Regions from separate parts of the Homo sapiens genome. Here all the other regions are linked to region 1. The links come from fine-mapping of genetic effects on gene expression. A gene starts in region 1. Each other region holds a variant in brackets. All regions are shown on one strand. Distances are between the middles of the regions.

Region 1 (5,150 bases):
CGCCAATGTTGGCAGAAATACTGAACTCTTATTACAAAATTTTCATATCATTTAAAGCTTTAGATTATTGCCTTTATAGTGGAACTTCTGTGAAATTGAGTCCTGAGATCTGAGTTTTAGCCTTGAGGTTGCTCCTGACCTTGAGACATTAATACTCAAATCTTAAAGTTTTCTGGGCCTCCGTGCTGGGATTGGTCATAGTTCAGTTGTTTCCTGTCTTCTCTCTTCTCTTCCTCTCCCAGAGTGCTCAGCCCAGGTTACCACACCAACTTAATCTGTAACATTTCGGTAAGTCATCTGGGCAGGATCCTTGATCCTCTAAGCCTTATGTGACTGATCTGCAAAAAAGGAGATAATAGCATGTACCAGCTGATAGTTATGGTGGCGATTAAAGGAGATCAGGAATGTAAACATTGGGTGCAGTGGTTCACGCCTGTTGTCCCAGCGCTTTGGGAGGCCAAGGTGGGATGATTGCTGGAGCCCAGGAGTTTGGGATGACTCGGGGCTGCCCAGCCTCAGGCTGGGCAACATAGCGAGAACCTGTCTCTTAAAAAACAGAGAGAGAGAGAAGAAAATCAGTCATGACTTACAATGGAAGAAATTATCATCAGGATGTATTTGGAAATAATATTTAGGTTGAAAGACTTAAGCAGGAATATTATTTCTCATGTCCACTGGAAAACACAGTGACATGACTCCCAAAACCTTCAGTCAACAAGTCTGTCTTACTGTTTCCTCCCCAGATTCTAGGGATATTAGCAATCAACGGCTCTCAAATCTTTACTCTTGGTTAGATAAAAGCTATCTTCAACTAATTTTTCTTCTGATTCAATTTGTCATTAAATACACTGATCTAAGAATTTATCACGCATCTCACTTGTACAATTTCTCCTTTGAAAGCATCGAATTGCAACCTTGTATGTGTAACTGTTCCACACATTCAGAAACGGGCCCCTTCAATTCGCGTGGACCTATCTGCTAAGTGGTGCACAGACTCGCGCTCTGAGCCCGCAGCCACGACCTTTAATGCGGGAAATGTGCATGATCCCATACAGCGCCCATCTCAACAACTAGAGGCTGGGTGCACCCGAGAGGGGTATGCCTGCCTTGAAGATATGGAAAAGTTTTGTTTTCGTTCTTTCCACTCCTTGGACAGTCCCTAGTGCTTGCGCGGAACCGGGACGTCTCCTTTGGACCCGCTAATGTCACAAGCCGCCCGAGCGCGCCGCTGCTGGCCTCCGCCCAGACCCGGATTCCTCCCCCTTCCCGGCGCCCTTTCTCGGGCGCCCGGCCCGCAGCTGGCGAGGGCTCTCTGACCGCTCCGGTGTCCTCGCCCCATTTTACTTCTTGGGTCCCCGCCGGTGCCATCTGGTTGGAACCCTCGGGAGGAACTAAAAGTTGGACGTCGCCACCCCTACCCCTCGCCAAAAAATAAACACCGGGGGCTGCCGAGGCCCGCCAGGAGGAAGGCGACGAGGAAAAAGCGAGGACGGAAGGCGGCCCCGGGTTCGCCCCGGCCTGGGCCGCCCGCTTCCCCACCCCGCGCACCGTACCGTCCCCGGCTCCCTGGCTCCCCGACGGCGAGGAGGGCCGCCGCTTCCGCGTCGGGGTCGGCCGGGGGACCTGCGAGGTGCGGCTGCCGCAGCGGCGCGCCCCGGAGCCTGGCCCGGCATTCCAGTCCGAATAGAAAGAGGCAGGGAATCAAATGGAAAAGCAGGAGGCCAGGCCTGGGCGGGCGAGCTGGGAAGGAGGCGGCGCGGCGGGGCCCGGGAACCCAGCCTGGAGCGCTCTGAGCGGCCGGCTCGGACTCACGCGGCGCGCCCGGGCCGCCCCTCCTCCCCGCGCCGCCGGCCGCGGCCCAGGCTCCCTCGCTCCGCCACTCCCCGCCCCTCCGCGCTCCCTCCCCGCCCTCCCCGCGCCGCCGCCTCCTCCTCCCGGCCTCCCTCTCCCAGCCAAACTGAAAGCCGGACCCCAGGCCGCCGCGCTGCCGCCCGGCCTCCCCGCCAGCGCGCCACCATGGGCAGTCCCGGTTTCCCCTTGTAAAGATGGCGGTGAGGGATCGCTGCAACCTTTAGACTAATGACTGTCCGAAACATCGCCTCCATCTGTAATATGGTGAGTGGCCGAGCCGCCTCGGGGTCGCGCCCGACTCGCGGCGAGGCAAAGAAAGGGAAGCCCGAGCTGCACACACGCCCGGTGGCTGGGGCGGCGGGGGCGGCGGGGTCCGCGCCGCCAGAAGTTCCCGGCCCCCGAGCTGGGCGCGCGGCCGCAGCCACCTCAGCGGCCGGGGAGGGTCCCCGAGCCCCCGGCGCCCGTCTCAGCCCCGGGACCTCGGAACCCGCCCGGCGATCCCGGGGCCGCGCTGCTGCGCCCCCCGCCCTCGGGTTGCGGTGGAAGCGGCTTGAGGGAAGGGAAGCGACCGAACCTGAACGTCCCCGGGGAGGGGGTGGGGGATAAGCTGGAGGTGGGGGGCACCCATCCTCTTCTTGCGGTCAAGACAGCCTTATTGGACGTCCAGACTGCCCTCATCTCATTTTGAGTTCAGTCCTTCCGAGGTGTTTAAAATTCACTTTGCAATAGCAATTGTGTATCTGGAGAAATCGGAAATGTAATAAAGCTGTAAAAAAAGTGCAAAATTGTGGCTGGAGAAGTGAACTTCAACCTGGTTTGAAAAAGCACCGTAATTTGCTCCGCATGCCTCAGTTTCCCCATCTGTGAAAAAGGGACAAGGCTCTGTGGCGGTAATATTTGCAGGCCCTAAGGGTGGGGCGGGCTGTGGGCTTGGAGGAGGTCTCCAGGGTTATCCTGCCTGATCCGCTGTAGACCTAGGGGAGGCTGGCGGGCATGGATACAGCCAGGGACATCACTGGGTTCTGATGCAGTCCGAGCCCATGATGCGGTGGTCACTTTAATTTGGGTTTCCCCCATTGCTTTCCCTTTTTCTGTAGGAAGAACCTCCAGCCCTTGGGTCCCCAGGCTGGACCCTGCTGGCGCCTCCACTTGTCAGAGCCTTTGGGGAGCTCAGATTGGAGTAAGGCATTGCTGTCCCTTGCAGGGTGAGATGATGTGTGTTTTGCCTACATTCTTTAGACTGCACCCCGCCTCCCCTCTAGCCCCCTCCCAAGCGGGTCCCCGGAGGCAACACGTGCTCTTACAGTGCCAGTTTGAGGAAAACCTCCCTTGAAGCTAGTAATACTGGCCCCTAAAGGGAATCCAAGGAAGCTTGATGGAGAAGCCCTGGTGTAAGGTGATCTGGCTGCCCTTCCCCCATCACATAGCTTTTTAAATCTTCTGTCCCACATTCTGTTGCAAGATCAACACATGGCAAAGGAGCATTAAGAAGCCTTGTGTTAGCTCAGGGGTGGAATTGAGACCCGCTGGCTTCAGCTTTCAGCACAATGGGACGTGCCACTGTCACGGCCAGCAAAGCAAATGCTGGGGCCTCCCAGAGTGATAGCTGCACAGGTACTGGTTGGTGCCGGGCGAGTTCCATACGGGGAGTGGATCCTAGAGCCTTTCTGTTTTCTCTTTTTTTCCTTTCTCTGCGAGGAGTCAGATTTCCTCTTATTCCTGTGGAGGGGCTGCTTGTGAAGAGGTGATGCCTTCTCAGTTTCTCTCCTACGACCAGTTCCTGAGGGAACTGTGAATCGGGAGCAGCTTGAATACTCTTTTATGTCTGTTGGTGTGGCCGCAGGCCTAAGGATACTACAGGGTAGTGAGGCTCCGACCCAGCCCTTGGTGGTGTTCTTGTCCTGCTTGTGTGTGGTTACACCTCTCTGTGTAGAAGCAGGCTGGAAACTTGAGAGCTAGCATGCCCCTAGAGGAAGCCAGCCCCCAACCTCCCCCCACGCGTCCCCCCACCCACCCTCAGTGCTGCGGGGGCTTTCTGGCACACCTGGGCTGAATGTCACAACGTGTTTCAGTGAAACTCAGTCAGGGAGACAGGGTGTGGGGAGGACCTGAGAGGAGCAGGCCAATACTGCCCTGAGAGTTGACATCTCAGGTGGAGACCTAAAAAGGTACCAAATTTAGGACCATCACCCAGATGAAGTGAGGAACCAGTAATTCATTAAGTAAGGAGTCTGATGTTGTATTTAGACGCCATGTCTAGAGAGTGACAGAGTTTGGGTTCTAATGTCAGACTTCCTGGGTTCAGGTCCTGGTTCTTTTTTTTTTTTTTTTTTTTTTTGACAAGGTCTCACACTGTCACCCAGGCTGGAGTGCAGTGGCATGAACATGGTGGCTCACTGCAGCCTCCACTTCCCAGGCTCAAGTGATTCTCCCACCTCTGCCTTCTGAGTAGCTGGGACTACAGGCACGTGCCACCATGCCTGGCTAATTTTTAAATTTTCCATAGAGACTGGGTCTCCCTATGTTGCCCAGGCTGGTCCCTAATACCTGGGCTCAAGTGGTCCTCCCACCTCAGCCTCCCGAAGCGCCAAATTACTGCCGTGAGCCACCATACCCGGCAGGTCCTGGTTCTAACACATGTTGGCTTTGTGTCCTTGAACAAGTTGTCCGGTCTTAGACTTTCCTTATCTACCAAAAGGTGATGTTAATATTGTTGTATTACTCGGGCACAGGGCCTGGTACATGGCTAGAACTCAGTGAGTGTCATTGTCAACATCATCTTTCTCATTGTTATGTCATCTACCAGGTGTTTAAGGGACAGTGGAGATCATGCCATTTCAGACCTGGTGGAAGCAACCACTAATATAAACACCTCCCATGTATAGGAAGGCTGGAGTGGGAATCCTTAACCCCGCCCCCTGCTCAGGTCAATCCCCCACCCACCGCCCCCACTGTCCCTCCCAGTCTTCCTTCCCAGAGGAGAAGGCTGGGTATGAGGAAACTGCTGTCTTTTCACTGGATCAGACGTAAATATTAACTGGACCTCTCTTTAGATTCTTTGCTCAATAATGAATTGTTTTCAGGTAGGTGTCTTACAGGTCCCTTCTCACTGCTTAGCTCCTCTGTGGGCCTCTTACTGACCCTTCCCGCTCCTAACTTTGGTCCCAGCTGGTTTGAGTAGTTGTAGTAAGAGCAAATGGTGATTGCATTTTTTTCTTAAGCACATCGTTTAACATATTTTGAACAGGCTGATATGTGTTCAGAAAGGATATTAGAAGGTACCATTTTTCTGGGTAACA
Region 2 (5,150 bases), 710 kb after region 1:
GCCCCAGTGGCTGCTTTCATGGGTTCAAGTTGAATGACTGTGGCTTTTCCAGTCACAGGATGCAAACTGCCAGTGGATCTGTCATTCTGGGCCTGAAGCATGGTGGTCCCCATCTCACAGAACTACTAGGTAGTGCCCCAGTGAGGAATTTGTGTGGAGTCTCCAACCCAGAATTTCTCCTCTGCACTACCCTAGTAGAGGTTCTATGTGAGGGCTGTGTCCCTGTGGCAGGCTTCTGCCTGGGCTTCTAGGCTTTTCCATACATCTTCTGATATCTAAGCAGAGGCTGGCAAGCCTCCTTCATTCTTGCACTCTGAGCATTTGCAGGCTTAACCCTATGTAGAAGCCACCAAGGCTTATGGCTATATCTGGAGCTTTTTGAGCTGAGACTGGGGTTGGAGCTGCTGGGATGCAGGGAGCAGTGTTCTAAGGCCACGTAGGGCAGCAGGGGCCCTGGGCCTGGCCCATGGAAACATTTTTCCATTCTTGGCCTCTGGGCCTTGATGGGAGGGGCTGTCACAAAGGTCTCTGAAATGCCTTTGAGGCCTTTTCTTGGCTATCAGCACCTTGCCCCTTTTTAGTTACGAAAATCTCTCTAGCAAGTGGTTGCTTCACAGCCTGCTTGGATTATTCCCCTTAAAATGGGCTTTTCTTTCTACTACATGGCCAGGCTTCAATTTTTCAAATATTTATGCTCTGCTGCCCTTTCAAATATCAGTTATAATTTTAAGTCATTTATTTGCTCCTGCATCTGAGCCTAGGATGTTAGAAAACAGCCAGGCAACATCTTGCATGCTTTACTCTTAGAAATTTCTTCCACCAGATAGTCTAAATTATCACTCTCAAGTTCAAACTTCCAGAGATCCCTAAGTCATAAACACAATGCAGACAAACTCTTTGCTAATGCACAACGCACATGACCTTCACTCCAGTTCGCAATAAATTTCTCATTTCCATCTGAGACCTCAGCAGCCTGGACTTCACTGCCCATATCACTATCAGCATTTTGGTCACAACCTTTTAACCAGGCCCTAGGATGTTCCAAACTTTACCTCATCTTCCTGTTCTCTTCTGAGCCTTTCAAACTCTTCCAACCTCTGCCTGTTACCCAATTCCAGAAACACTTCCACATTCTTGATACCAATTTTCTGTATTAGGCCATTTTTTGCATTGCTATAAAGAAATACCTGAGACTGAGCAATTTATAAAAGAAGAGGTTTAATTGGCTCATGTTTCTGCAGGCTGTACGAGAAGCATGGCACAAGCATCTGCCCAGCTTCTGGGAAGGACTCAAGGAGCTTTTATTTGTGGTGGAAGGCAAAGCAGGAATAGGTATCTCACATGGCAGAGTGGGAGCAAGCGAGTGAGGGGGGAGGTGCCACACACTTAAACAACCAGATCTCATGAGAACTCACTATCTCGAGGACAGCACCAAACCAAGAGGGATCTGCCTCCATGAACCAAACACCTCCCAGTAGGCCCCAACTCTTAATACTAGGGATAACAATTGAACATGAGACTTAGAAGGAACACATATCCAAACCATATCAATCCACATCTGATTAAGACTCTGGACTTTAGACTTTTGAGTTGATCCTGGAAGAGTTAAGATTTTGGGGGCTGTTGAGATGGCATGAATCTATTTTGCCTGTGAAATGGACATAAATTTAGTGGGGGAAGAGGTGGAATGCTGTGGTCTGAATATTTGTGTCCCCCCAACAATTCATATGAACTTTGACATGAAACGTCATCCCCAGTGTGATAGTATTAAGAGGTGGAGGATTTGGGGATTAGGTCATGAGGGCTCATGAATGGAATTAGTGCCCTTGTTAAAAAAGGTTTGAGGGAACCTGTTTGTCCCATCTGCCATGTGAAGACACATAGAAGGTGCCAGATCTATGAAGCAGAGAGCAGCCATCACCAGACACTAAATTGGCTACAGCCTTAATATTGGACTTCTCGAGCTCCAGCCCTGTGAGGAATGCATACCTGTTGTTTACAAATCACCCAGTCTAAGGTTTTGTTATAATAGCCAGGAACTGAGATAACCTCCAAGCTGTTCTCACTCTAACTCATCATTCATTTACTCAATAAACATTTTATTTGGCCCCCCCA[T/A]GCTCCAGGTAATTCTCCTTACATGAGTTTCCCCACACCTTCCCATTGTCTATGATAATTTCCCCCAACCCAACTATACTGCAGCCCTATTCTGAATCATATATTCTGTGAATGAGGGCAGGGGAGGAGAGAGGTTGTGAATGAGAGGAAGGGAAATATAGAGTAGTGGTAACGAACTGCTTTACTGAGGCAGGGATTGCATTTTTATTCCTAGCTCTTCTGTTACTGGAAAGTGGTCCTGATCTAGACCCCAAGAGAGGGTTCTCAGATCTCACGCAAGAAAGAATTCTGGGCAAATTTACAGAGTAAAGTGAAACCAAGTTTATTAAAGAAGAAATAAAGGAATCGCTACTCCATAGGCAGAGCATCGGCATGGGTGCTTGACTGATTATATATAAGATTATCTCTTGATGATCTGCTAAACAAAGGGTGGATTATTCATGAGTTTTCTGAGAAAGGGATGGGGGCTCCCAGAACTGAGAGTTCCTCTCCATTTTGGACCATATGTGGTAACTTCCGGATGTTGCCATGGCATTTGTAAACTGTCATGGCACTGATGGGAGTGTCTTTTAGCATGCTAATACATTTTAATTAGCTTTTAATGAGCAGTGAGGATGACAGAGGTCCCTTTTAGGGCCATCTTAGTTTTGGTGGGTTTTGGCCAGCTTCTTCACCTAATCTCATTTGATCCGTGAGGTCTTTGTGGCTTGAACCTTGCAAAACTCTTCCTGCTGATTCCTATCACACCTATTCAAGATGGAGTCACTCTGGTTCAAACACCTCTGACACCTCCACTAATTCTTTGTTGTTTTGGAAATGTGAAATTCTCTACATGCCTCTGAGTATCCATCAGCAAAACATGAGCAGCCACTCTGTGTGTGTGTGCGTATAAGCACAGGTGTGTATGCCCATGCACACACACTCTCTACCATATCTCACCAAATGAGATATGACCACAAGATAATATAACTGATTTGTGAACCTTTCTGAAGGCAATTCCAAACGTGGAATTTTGAAAATATTTTGGGCCAAAGAAACATTATCTGAAACAGTGTGTAGGTGTCCGACTTGACTACTCTGAAGGAAAATCTACAAGTTTATACTCTGGTATGAATATTTGGGGAAAACAACCCTACAAAATCATTGCTTTCCAACGATACATCATGAGTCATTGACTTGGAATGCCAAATACAAGCTGGCAACTCACAGACCTTCTGAAGCTCGCTCAGTTTTCACTTTGGTCTTCTGCAGCTCGCTGAGTTTTTGTTTTTTGTTTTTTTAACTTTTCATTTTTTAATTGCAAGATTTTAATTTTTAAAAAATCTCAATGTCCCACTAATCAGGAAAAATCAGGAGAACTGTGCCGTCATGATCAAGCATGCTCTGCAGCTGGACTGTCTGGGTCTTAATCCCAGTTCTGCAACTTTCTACTTCTCTGACCTTCATCAAGTTATTTATCCTCTCTACCTCAGGACTGGAAGGAACTCCAGTTATTTTCCTCATCTGAAAAATAGAGATAATAATAGTACCTCCTGAATAGGGTTATTGTGAGCTTAAAATGAGAACATCGATTTGTTTAAAGCATATTAAACCCTTAGTAAACATAACCTATTATCTGGGAACACCAAACTTTATTCCTGCAGGACTCAAGCAGCATCTGCCCTGTGCACATGCGGGGAAAAGGGCTCCAGTTCACCCATTTCCCATCTGGTCCACTTCATCCCTTTGCCTTATCTGCCTGGCTCCTGTGGGCATTTGCAGTTTGCAACCCCCACTTTAGAATCACAGATCTGGTCAAATGGCCATGTTTAAAGAGAAAGAAAGCATTCACTCCCAGTTACAAAGTTAGGTAACAGCAATGCTCATATCTCCTGTCTGCCCATCTAGTTCCATTCTGGGTGCTCCTTATATCTGTAATCTTGGCCAACAGCAAAGGCTCTCCTCTACAACTCCAATGAATTATAGCAGGGTCACAACATTACTCACAAGGCACACAGATTTGCAGAGTAAATGCAATTTCTTACTTTCATCTATAACTGATCGTCTTCCTGGGGCTCCCACCACCCTGGATAGCAGAAATAACAGATTCGTCAATGAAAAATATTTCTATCTCTTCCAATCTAAATGGTTTCCTCTCTATTTCCAATTTTAATCTTAAAAATTCACTGAACTCTCTCTTTTAGGACTGGTCAAAGCAGCCTCTCTGGAATGACTCACCTCTCTGGCTTCTGTTTCTGCTTCATTTCTTTTTCCTGGGGTTGGCATCTGAGTATATGAGGGCACACTTCATTTTTGAGGCTTTGGAGCATAGGGCTTCTCAGACGTGGCTTTGCAGAAGGTGTCTCTGGACTGCCCAGTGGCTGCTCGTCTTATTGTCAGTCTCTGGCTGAAAGCAGCTGTCACTTGTTCTGGCTTTGTCAAGACCTGATGACCTCCCCTGACTGACCTGCCCCCACCCAGACTCCCGCAAACACTGTGACTCGAGAGGTCTGACTCTCACTTTCTTCCACTCCCATCCCTAAAGCCACCTGACCCTCATCGTGGAGATCCTGTTTGACAAGGTCCCCAGGCCAACCCTTAACTAACCTCAACACATGCCACTTGAGGCTGGGTTGCCTGGAAAAAGAGTCTGCAGTAAAACTTAAAAGTCAGTGTATTATTGGGGCAGGGGGTCAATCCTGAGAAAGCCAGAATGAAAGGAAATGTAACTAAAGTAGGGGCCAAGAGAATGCAGATACAAAGTGATGCACAAAACTTTTCTGCAGTGCTCCCAGCCTCTCCAGGCAGCACTGAGGGAAGTCGAACCATGTTGCATCTGACCTTGAACATGGCGGAGCTCTGGCTTCAGCAGCAATAGCTCCCATAGGACACACAACAAGCCGTTAGGAGGTAAGGTCAATAGCATCACCTGGGGCAAGTCATGTTCCTCCAGGCCAAGCAGGCCAAACTACAGCCCTTACTAGCCCAAGGTACCTAAAATGAGAAATGAGGGGAAGAAATGGAAAGGATTTCCCATGGCTGGCCAAAGGCTCATG
Region 3 (5,150 bases), 330 kb before region 1:
AGAGGCTAGTGAAATGTTAGAGTTTTGAAGAAAACTGAAGTAGTAAGGCAGTGTTAAGAAAAACAGGGAATCCTCTAGGTTTGGTCAGAGTTCATCCAGGACTTGCCCAGAATGCTTGAGCTCCCTCAGGAACACCTGGCTGTGATCCACAGCCCTCCAGGTGTCTTTTCATTTCTCCCCCAACCATTCAGAGGAACTGCTGGCCTGAGGATGCCCCAGGAACAGCCCCACTCCTGGCCTGTGGGGAGTTACCCCTGAACAGGAGCAGCTCCAAACCCAGCTGTCTAGAGCGGGACCAGCCTCAGGGCTGGGAGGAGGGCTGGGGCCCAAGCAATGCGGTCTGCGCTTTGTTTCCCTTGCCGTGGCACTGCCAAGACCTGCAGTACACGCCCCCAGTCATCGTTTTGACAACCCCAATATCTCCCACACTTCCCTCTGTCTCCAGAGCCTTTTTCTGAGGCTATTTATTACTAAGTACAGAACAGTCTATAAATAATTTTCATGTCAAAAGAAAAGTACCTGTGCTAGAGAGTTACAATGATTCCAATTAATTTTATGACCATTTTTATCATTGGAGTTTGGAAACTTGGAGTGGAAATCCAGCAATATTGCCAACTTTTGCCTGGTATGAGTGGAGTGGCATTTTTATTTCACCCTGTATGCCAGCCCCTTGCCACTGTCTTCGTTTCTTCAGTTTTCTTGAAGCAGTCATTTTGAAGAGATAAACAATGTATGTAAAAAATTACATGGAACCTGCAAACACACTTGAGACTAAAATGCGGAGCTGCTTCTAGATATGCATCCTAGTGAGCCACTGAAAGTACTTTGATGATTTAGTTGCCGCACATAAATAAAATATTCAATTAAATTAAAAAACATACTTTTTTTATTTTTTTATTTTTTTAGTATTTATTGATCATTCTTGGGTGTTTCTCCGAGAGGGGGATTTGGCAGGGTCACAGGACAATAGTGGAGGGAAGGTCAGCAGATAAACAAGTGAACAAGGGTCTCTGGTTTTCCTAGGCAGAGGACCCTGCGGCCTTCCGCAGTGTTTGTGTCCCTGGGTACTTGAGATTAGGGAGTGGTGATGACTCTTAACGAGCATGCTGCCTTCAAGCATCTGTTTAACAAAGCACATCTTGCACCGCCCTTAATCCATTTAACCCTGAGTGGACACAGCACATGTTTCAGAGAGCAGGGGGTTGGGGGTAAGGTTATAGATTAACAGCATCCCAAGGCAGAAGAATTTTTCTTAGTACAGAACAAAATGGAGTCTCCTACGTCTACTTCCCTCTGCACAGACACAGCAACAATCTGATTTCTCTATCTTTTCCCCACATTTCCCCCTTTTCTATTCGACAAAACCGCCATCGTCATCATGGCCCGTTCTCAATGAGCTGTTGGGTACACCTCCCAGACGGGGTGACTGCTGGGCAGAGGGGCTCCTCACTTCCCAGACGGGGCAGCCGGGCAGAGGCATCCCCCACCTCCCTCCCGGACGGGGCGGCTGCCTGGCGGAGGGGGGGCTTCACTTCACACATGGGGCGGCTGCCGGGCGGAGGGGCTCTTCACTTCTCAGACGGGGCGGCCGGGCGGAGACGCTCCTCACCTCCCAGATGGGGTGGCGGCCAGGCAGAGGCACTCCTCACATCCCAGAAGGGGTGGCGGGGCAGAGGCACTCCCCACATCTCAGACGATGGGCGGCCGGGCAGAGACGCTCCTCACTTCCTAGAGGGGATGGCGGCCGGGAAGAGGTGCTCCTCACTTGCCAGACTGGGTGGCCGGGCAGAGGGGCTCCTCACATCCCAGACGATGGGCGGCCATGCAGAGACGCTCCTCACTTCCCAGACGGGGTGGCGGCCCGGCAGAGGCTGCAATCTCGGCACTTTGGGAGGCCAAGGCAGGCGGCTGGGAGGTGGAGGTTGTAGCGAGCCGAGATCACGCCACTGCACTCCAGCCTGGGCAACATTGAGCACTGAGTGAGGGAGACTCCGTCTGCAATCCCGGCACCTCAGGAGGCCGAGGCTGGCAGATCACTCGCGGTTAGGAGCTGGAGACCAGCCCGGCCAACACAGCGAAACCCCGTCTCCACCAAAAAAATAGGAAAACCAGTCAGGCGTGGTGGCGCGCTCCTGCAATCCCAGGCACTCGACAGGCTGAGGCAGGAGAATCAGGCAGGGAGGTTGCAGTGAGCTGAGATGGTGGCAGTACAGTCCAGCTTCGGCTCGGCATCAGAGGGAGACCGTGGGGAGAGGGAGACTGCGGGGAGAGGGAGACCGTGGGGAGAGGGAGACTGTGGGGAGAGGGAGAGGGAGAGGCAAAAACATACTTAAGAAAAATATACGCACACATTTTAAGGCTGCTTGGGGAAATGTATCCACTATAAAGACATGTACATTTTTTAAGTTTTTACCCTACCTCATTCCAAAAGGATTCAAGATCACTTTGGGACAGATACTGGCAGATAAAACAATCTGAACTCAAAATGTAATGGCAGAATGGCTTCCTTACTACACAGGCCTCCCATTTCCACAGCTACAGCTACAGCTACAGCTACACCCCCAGTTTCAGAACCAATACTCTTCTTAGCCAGAGAGAATTCAAACCACTTC[C/T]CTCATTTGGGAGTTGGGTGGAGCAATGTCAAGTCATCTTGAGGATGTTCTGCTCAGATGTGGTGCATTAGTAACCAGGCCCTTAATCCAACTCCTCTCCCTGAGCCTTCAGTGAACTTTGTCTCTGGGTGCCAGTCTTGTCCCCCAAGGCCAAGCCCATCCTCAAAACCTGTGTAATTTCCTTGATCCTCCAGATTTGGGAACCTTCCATCCTCCCCCTAGCCCAGTTGGTAGTAGGGGTTCTCCCCTGAACCCCAATCCCTCCTCCTAAGGTGGAAGGGCAAAAATGTGGACTTCGAAATCAACATATCTGGGAGTGACTCTACAGTGTACCTTTTTACTGTCATTAAAACTTTGACAACTTACTTCAATTTTCTTTAGATAGGAGGAATAATAATACCAATCTCAGAGATTTTGGTGAGGATGAAATGAGGTAACACAAAGTGCTTCAGACAGGGTATCATATTTAGTGCATGTCAATATTGTTATTACCTCTCCCCAAGCATACTGAACACCAACCATCTATCTCCCATGTCTCACCATATTAACCTGAAAACAAGCTTCCCTGCAGGCCAGATCTACTCAGCCCCCTTTCTGCCTGCAGAATACCCTCTAGTACCTCTTAGTGGACTTCCTTCCCTCTCCCTGTCCTACTCTCTACTCCTCATCACAGAATCTGATTTTGCACACTGAAGGGCCTGCCTCACATTGTCCACCTACAGCCAGGTGTGTTCCACATCCAGGTGGGTCAGTCCAGACTTTCCCACATTCTCCACCACCACCTCAGCCCAGGGTCTGATGGAAGTGAAGATAAAACTGATGCGTAAGAGTTACAAGAGTGGACAGTTTCTTTATCATTACTGCATTTCTCTTTTGTTGGAAAGACCAATCCTTTAAATGTTTCATGACTTTTACCCTTATTTTTTTTTCTTTATTCTAAAACTAGTAGCTACCATGATGAACAAGATAGACACAGTACCTGCCTTCAATTTGTGTATGCTTTAGTAAGAGAATACTATACTGGACAGTATATTACACATTTGACATTCCAAGTCTCAAAATACCCAGTTTTAACTTTGTACTTTACATGATTCTTCCACTTGGGAAAGTTGCTTAAACCATCTGCACGTCATTTTCTTCATCTGAAAAATGGGAATAATGCTAGCCTCCACCTATGGCTTTGCAAGCAGCCTCAGCTCTCCCCATTGGCTGGTCTCCTTAATGTAGTACACAAATGGTACAGCTATAGGAAGATCCCTGAATTAGATAATTCACTTTAAATACTTAAAAAGTAACACTGAAAGGCTGACACATTGTAAATTTCTAGCAATAACATTATTAATTGTAATAGTGGAATGAGACTAATGAGAACACATTGGGAAGACAGATTAATATCATTCAGAGCCTTATATATTTTGCAGCAGCTTTGTCTCATTAGAAACATGTTTTCAGTCGATATTAAATGTAAGAAAACAGCTTTCTTCTTATCACCAGCTCATTCTTCAGAAGCCACTGAATCATGTGAGATGTCTCTTTCATTTTTGACCCCTGCTTCAGCACTCCTTCTAAAAAGATAGTAAATGAGCATGTTACATTTGCTGCTGCAGTTAACTACTGTCTGTGAGATGCAGCAAGAGATTATCTGAGAGCATGTGCGTAAATGATAGATTGCCTCGAGCCTATTTATACATGCAGCAGTAATGAGGAAAAGTTGAAGGAGGCATGAAGGATGGGAGGGAGGGAAGGAGAGAGATGATGCCAGAATGTGCAGAGTGTAGACAGAGGAAGAGAGTCAAAGAAGGAAAAATAAAGAGAGGTGAACAGCAGGACTAGAAACATGTAAGCAGAGATGGTGGGAGGGGGCATCAGTAGGTAAAAGGAAAGAAGGGAACAGAGAAAACTCATTAGCAACCAACAGAAAAGGCAGAATTTTGAGAAAACAAAATGCATCAGGCAGATTGGGAAGAAAGTAGAATGAAAGAAATGAAAACAGGAATCAAGGTGAATAGAATCCAATGCCACAGTGGGAAACATACATTATTAGATGATGTCGATTTTATGTAAACAAGGGAGCAAAGGTTTTGTCTGATAGAAATTTCTGAACTCCTTTGAAGTCACTACCATAAGCATTCCACAGGCATTCTATTCCTTCTTTGCATTGTATTTAAAATGGGCACACTAGGGAAAATTACAGAGTGTCTTTATCATAAGTTGAACTCCTAAGCTATCACATTTCAAATACTGAAACACTATCATATAATATTAAAGGAAATTATAGTATGAATAGAGACAAAACTGAAGTTATTCTGTTAATAAGACTATTTCCATCATCTTTCCTTAGGATGCTTTATCCATAGTGGCATGTTGGTCTTATAACATCCCTTTAGGAGAAATTGATGGGCATAGCATGGTTTTTATTTCACCAAACATGGTTAAAGGACTAATAAGATAATCCACAAATTAGTCACAGAACTAGGGACATCATCCAAGTTTCTTGTTCCATTTGTACAATGATTGCCCACTCTGTTCATCCTACAG
Region 4 (5,150 bases), 31 kb before region 1:
AGATTTCAACCTTCTCCTGTATCTCAATAATCTTCATTTCTGTCCAGAATCTGAATTCTATTTCTGTAATTTTGGCCATCTCAGCCTGTTTGGGAACTAGTCCAATCCTTTGGAGGTAACAAGACACTATGGCTTTTTGAGTTGCCAGAGTTTTTGCACTGGTTCTTTCTCATCTTTGTGGGCTAATATTCCTTCAATCTTTGTAGTTGCTGACTTTTAGATAAGTTTTTTTTTCTTTAATTCCATTTTATGTTCTGGGAGATTTAATTGTGGTATAAGGTGGGTTCAATTGACTGGGTTTGTTTCTGGAGGATTTTAGGGAACCAAGGCTCAGCTCAGAACTCCTGGACTGTGTGTTCTAACTCTGGGGTGTTGATTTCAGACCTCTGGCTTTGTTCTGTGGTCCCTGGAAGTTAGGAACCTGCCATGCTGGAAGGGCCAAGTTGTTCCTGAAGCAGTGTTCACAAGAGTCTGATGGGTGGTGCCAGCCACAGAACTTTGTAGGGAAGTGGCAATGGGATCCATCCTTGTTTGCATGTGCCAGCAGTATGGGTAGCATGGCAGGGTGCACACTCATTCTGCAGTGAGGTGCTGGTAGGTTCAGGGGTGCCAACTTCTGTGTGGGTGTTCACAGTGGTGATGGTGGCAGGATAGTGTGGCCAGCCAGGGGTCCCCCCAGTGTCTGTGCATGTGTTTGCTCCAGGGCTGGTGTTAGCACAAGGGTGGGTGCTGGTAGGCATGAAACTCTGTGTACCCTCTGTGCAGCCGGCAGCTGCTGCTGGGGGTGGGGATGGGTCTAGTGGTCTCCCGCACAGTTTTGCACTGGCAGCAATGTTGTCATGGGGACAGGGCACTGGTGGGTACGGGCCTGGCAGTCTCTATGCCCATTAGTGCTCCTATGGCTCAATTTTTAGAAAAATAATTCTAATTTTAGCCAACTTGATCACAAACAAAATTCCTTTCACAAGATGAGTTTTCCACAGATTTTCTAAAATTTGCTTAAGGCGCCAGTTTTGTCCTGTATTTCCTTTTTATATTGGCATCTTACCTTAGGACAAAAATTTACTTTTTTTTCCTATTGTCATTTTGAACACATAAAGTTCCCCCTCATGCAACTCAAAGAAGAGGTTTCCTGGTCATAGGTGGATTCAAAGGTTTTCTGATTGGCAGTTGGTTGGGAGATCTTAATGAAAGACCTGAAATCAGTAGAAGAGAGTATCTGGGCTAAGGTAAGGGGTCGTGCAGACCAAGGATCTTATAATGCAGATGAAGTCTCCAGGTAGCAGGCTTTAAAATAAATAGATTGTGTTTCTTTAAGGTGCCAAACTCTGTTAATTCACTCCTGGATCAGAAAGAAGACCTGGAAAGGGAAAGGGGTTCTTGACAGAAGATATATTTTTTGTACAAGAGATAGCTTTGCAGTGCCATTTCAAAATATGTCAAAAAAATATATTTTGGGAGGTCATGTATGGTGGCTCATGCCTGTACTCCCATTACTTTGGGAGGTTGAGGCAGGTGGATCTCCTGAGCTCAGGAGTTCAAGACCAGCCTGGGCAACATGGCAAAACCCATCTCTACAAAAAAAAAAAAAAAAAAAAAAATTATTCAGGTGTGGTGGAGCATGTCTTTTGGCCCCAGCTACTAGAGAGGCTGGGGTGGGAAGATTGCTTGAGCCTGGAAGGTGGAGGTTGTAGTAAGCCAAGATTGCGCCACTGCACTCCAACCTGGGTGACAGAGTGAGACCCTGTCTCAAAAAAAAAAAAAAAAAAAAAAGAGAAAAGAAAAGAAAAAAGAAATATATTTTGGGGTAAAATACTTCAATTTCTTTCAGGGCCTGCTATCTGTCATGCTGATGTCTTGTTACCACAAAAAGTCTGTTTTGTCAGTCTTAAAGTCTCTGTTTTTATGTTAATACTGGTCAGCTGTGCCTGAATTCCAAATTGCCTTTTCTTTTCTCCTTTCTTTTTTTTCTTTTCTTTTCTTTTCTTTTCTCTCTCTCTCTTTCTCCTTAATATTTCTCCCCCTTTTTTTGTTTTTTTTTGTTTGTTTTTGAGACTGAATCTCGCTCTGTCACCCAGGCTGCAGTGCAGTGGCGTGATCTCGGCTTACTGTAACCTCCGCCTTCTGGGTTCAAGCGATTATAGTGCCTCAGCCTCCTGAGTAGTTGGAATTACAGGTACCCACCACTACGCCCAGCTAATTTTTGTATTTTTAGTAGAGATGGGGTTTCATGTTGGCCAGGCTAGTCTCAAACTCCTGACCCCAGGTGATCTGCCCGCCTCAGCCTCCCAAAGTGCTGGGATTACAGGCATGAGCCACCACACCTGGACCCTTATGTATTTTTCCCCTTATGTATTCTCCTATTCAATCAGGTTTACTTTAGAATGCCCTTAGCCAAGCAGGGGTCCAGCTGGTTGGTGGGGTCTTAGAATTTTATTTTTGGTGTATAGTTTATGCCTGTATTTGTAAATTTAAACCATTTCATAATTTTTAGAAAGATGTTTCCTCAATTTTCTAATTAACAGATTTAGATATAGCTTTTCTATATCATATAAATGACTCAGACATTTTATGATTATCTATTACTTAATTTAACACAACATGACTTTAAGATCAAGTTACTAAAAAGATTTTTGGAACTATGGAGTTCATTTATAAACTTGTATCCTATTTACATTCATGTAATTTATTCATTCTTTTTTTTTTTTTGAGACGGAGTCTCACTCTATTGCCCAGGCTGGAGTACAGTGGCACAATCTCAGCTCACTGCAACCTCCACCTCCCGGGTTCAAGTGATTCTCTTGCCTCAACCTCCCAAGTAGCTGTGATTACAGGCATGTGCCACCATGCCTGGCTAATTTTGTATTTTCAGTAGAGATGGAGTTTCACCATGTTGCCCAGGCTGGTCTCAAACTCCTGATCTCAGGTGATCCACCTGCCTTGGCTTTCCAAAGTGCTGGGATTACAGGCATGAGCCACCACAACTGGCCTAATTTATTCATCTTTAACAATTATGCTTGAA[T/C]AGTTCATTAAACAAAGCTAGCTATTATCTCAAGCTATTTATTAGTTAATCATTTTTACAGCTTGTGAATGTTAGGTATTTGCCACCTAAGCAGGAACCCTAAAGTTAAATACATGCATAGTTTGTTGATTAGAAGACACAGCTGTTTTCATTAAACCAACAATATTAAACTAGTCTTATTTACTAAGCATTTACCCAAGTCATGTAAACTAAAGGCATTTGAGTTTGTTTCTATTTTTCTGATTAAATATTTAAGTGTTTACTTTTTAAAAGCCAATGATTAGAGCTTTTTCATATATCTTTGTAAGGAAATATCACATACATGACACTTATAAACATATAGACATACACACAGAAGTATATTTTACAGCTTCATAACATCCTTTTTAGGCCAATTATCAAATGGTTTTTCTACCATCTATAAACAATCAAGCTCTAAACAATATTAGCTAGGCAACCCTAAATTTGTACTTTTAAAGACATGACTCTTATGTGAGAATTTTTATTTAAAGACACAGAAGTTAGATGTAAACACCATTATTTGCTGAGACAAAGAAGGGCATAGGTAAAGGCCTATGTTAAGTATCTTAAATAAAGGCAAGATTTGTCATGTAAACTTTAAACTAATGTTTTCCCAAAAGTTTCTAGTGGTTTAGGTACAGTGAGGGAGATGTCCTTACAAATGGAGGTTTCCTTTATAGATGTAGATTTATTTTACAAAAAGTTTCAGTATAGCCAGCTAAGAACATTGTATTTTGGATACCAATCTGGTTAGATAGGTGTTCTTTTCCACTTAATTTGTCTCTTGATTAGATTACTGACTTCAAGGTGGAGCCCTTTAATGAACAAGGCAAACAAAGAAAGCCTTTGCAGTTACCAGGGCCTAATATTTAAATATATGAAAAGCAGGCACAGCTGGAATGCAGCACATCTAGATCTTTAAAAATCAAGGATCTCTGGCCGGGTGTGGTGGCTCACACCTGTAATCCCAACACTTTGGGAGGCCGAGGTAGGCGGATCACAAGGTCAGGAGATCGAGACCTTCCTGGCTAACATGGTGAAGCCCATCTGTACTAAAAATACAAAAAAATAACTGGGTGTGGTGGTACACACCTGTAGTCCCAGCTACTCGGGAGGCTGAGGCAGGAGAATCACTTGAACCCGGGAGACGGAGGTTGCAGTGAGCCAAGATCGTGCCACTGCACTCCAGCCTGGGTGACAGAGTGAGACTCTGTCTCAAAAACAAACAAACAAAAAATCAAGGATCCCACTTTTACAATCCCAGGTCCCCTAATAAAAGGAAATCCCCTGGGACTGGGCCATGCAATGCTTCCACAGTGCCTTTCACCATGAAGACATTCCTTTGTTGCTGGCGGGTGAAATGATGCCGATCAGCCCCTTCTGTGATCAGCCCTTCCCTGTCAGGAGTCTTATCTCTTGGTGGCAAGTGTCCCCACAACCTCCAAATGTTCAAACCCGCCTTTTTACCTAAGTGCACAAAGAAATAAGTAGCACTCTGCATTAACAAGCATTCACTGAGACCATTGTCAGCCACTCCCCAAACTGCAGCTTTTGCAGTGGCTTGTCAGACACTGCATACACTGAAGTCAAGTTCTCTCTCACAGCACAAAGTAATCCTTGGTTCCCCAAAACCAAAGAGATCAGATATTACTATTTTTTTTTTTTTTGAGACAGGGTCTCACTTTGTCACCCAGACTGGAGTGCAGTGGCATGATCTCAGCTCATTGCAACCTCGACTTCCTAGGTTCAAGTGATTCTCATGCCTCAATCGTCCAAGTAGCTGGGATTACAGGCATGCATCACCACGCCTGGCTAATTTTTGCGTTTTTAGTAAAGATGGGGTTTTGCCATGTTGGCCAGGCTGGTCTCTAACTCCTGGCCTCAAGTGATCTACCTGCCTTGAGCTCCTACAGTGCTGCGATTATAGGAATGAGCCACCTGGCCCTGTGAGATCAGATACTACTTTTAACAGCTCTTATAATTTTTAATTATTTACCAATTTAGTTTCCTCTGTGACAATATGAATTGCAATTTATGATTTAAAATGATCAGGTTTTGAACATTTTTTGGAACGTAATAATTCTATTTTATATTCTAATTCTAAATG

The links. PIP is the estimated chance that this variant, and not a neighbour inherited with it, causes the effect.
Region 2: its variant is the best candidate, but not a certain one, in a credible set for the expression of USP46 in monocytes (BLUEPRINT, PIP 0.57).
Region 3: its variant is the best candidate, but not a certain one, in a credible set for the expression of USP46 in whole blood (TOPMed, PIP 0.55).
Region 4: its variant is the best candidate, but not a certain one, in a credible set for the expression of USP46 in whole blood (INTERVAL, PIP 0.76).

What each region holds. Positions count from the first base shown.
Region 1 is chr4:52,656,080-52,661,229 of GRCh38, reverse strand. It overlaps USP46 (ubiquitin specific peptidase 46), which reads left to right and starts at 1,929. Exons shown (of 9, transcript NM_022832.4): 1 at 1,929-2,115. The coding sequence starts at 2,080. It overlaps USP46-DT (USP46 divergent transcript), which reads right to left and starts at 1,824. Exons shown (of 2, transcript NR_125363.1): 1 at 1,554-1,824; 2 at 1-338. RefSeq lists silencers at 1,516-1,945, 1,956-2,475.
Region 2 is chr4:51,941,567-51,946,716 of GRCh38, reverse strand. No RefSeq gene overlaps it. Among named protein-coding and RNA genes, the nearest start is that of LRRC66, 76 kb to the left of the region's middle. The variant T/A (reference allele first, on the strand shown) is at 2,116.
Region 3 is chr4:52,989,152-52,994,301 of GRCh38, reverse strand. All of the region lies in intron 5 of SCFD2 (sec1 family domain containing 2), which reads left to right. Among named protein-coding and RNA genes, the nearest start is that of SCFD2-AS1, 64 kb to the right of the region's middle. The variant C/T (reference allele first, on the strand shown) is at 2,613.
Region 4 is chr4:52,687,244-52,692,393 of GRCh38, reverse strand. No RefSeq gene overlaps it. Among named protein-coding and RNA genes, the nearest start is that of DANCR, 23 kb to the left of the region's middle. The variant T/C (reference allele first, on the strand shown) is at 3,023.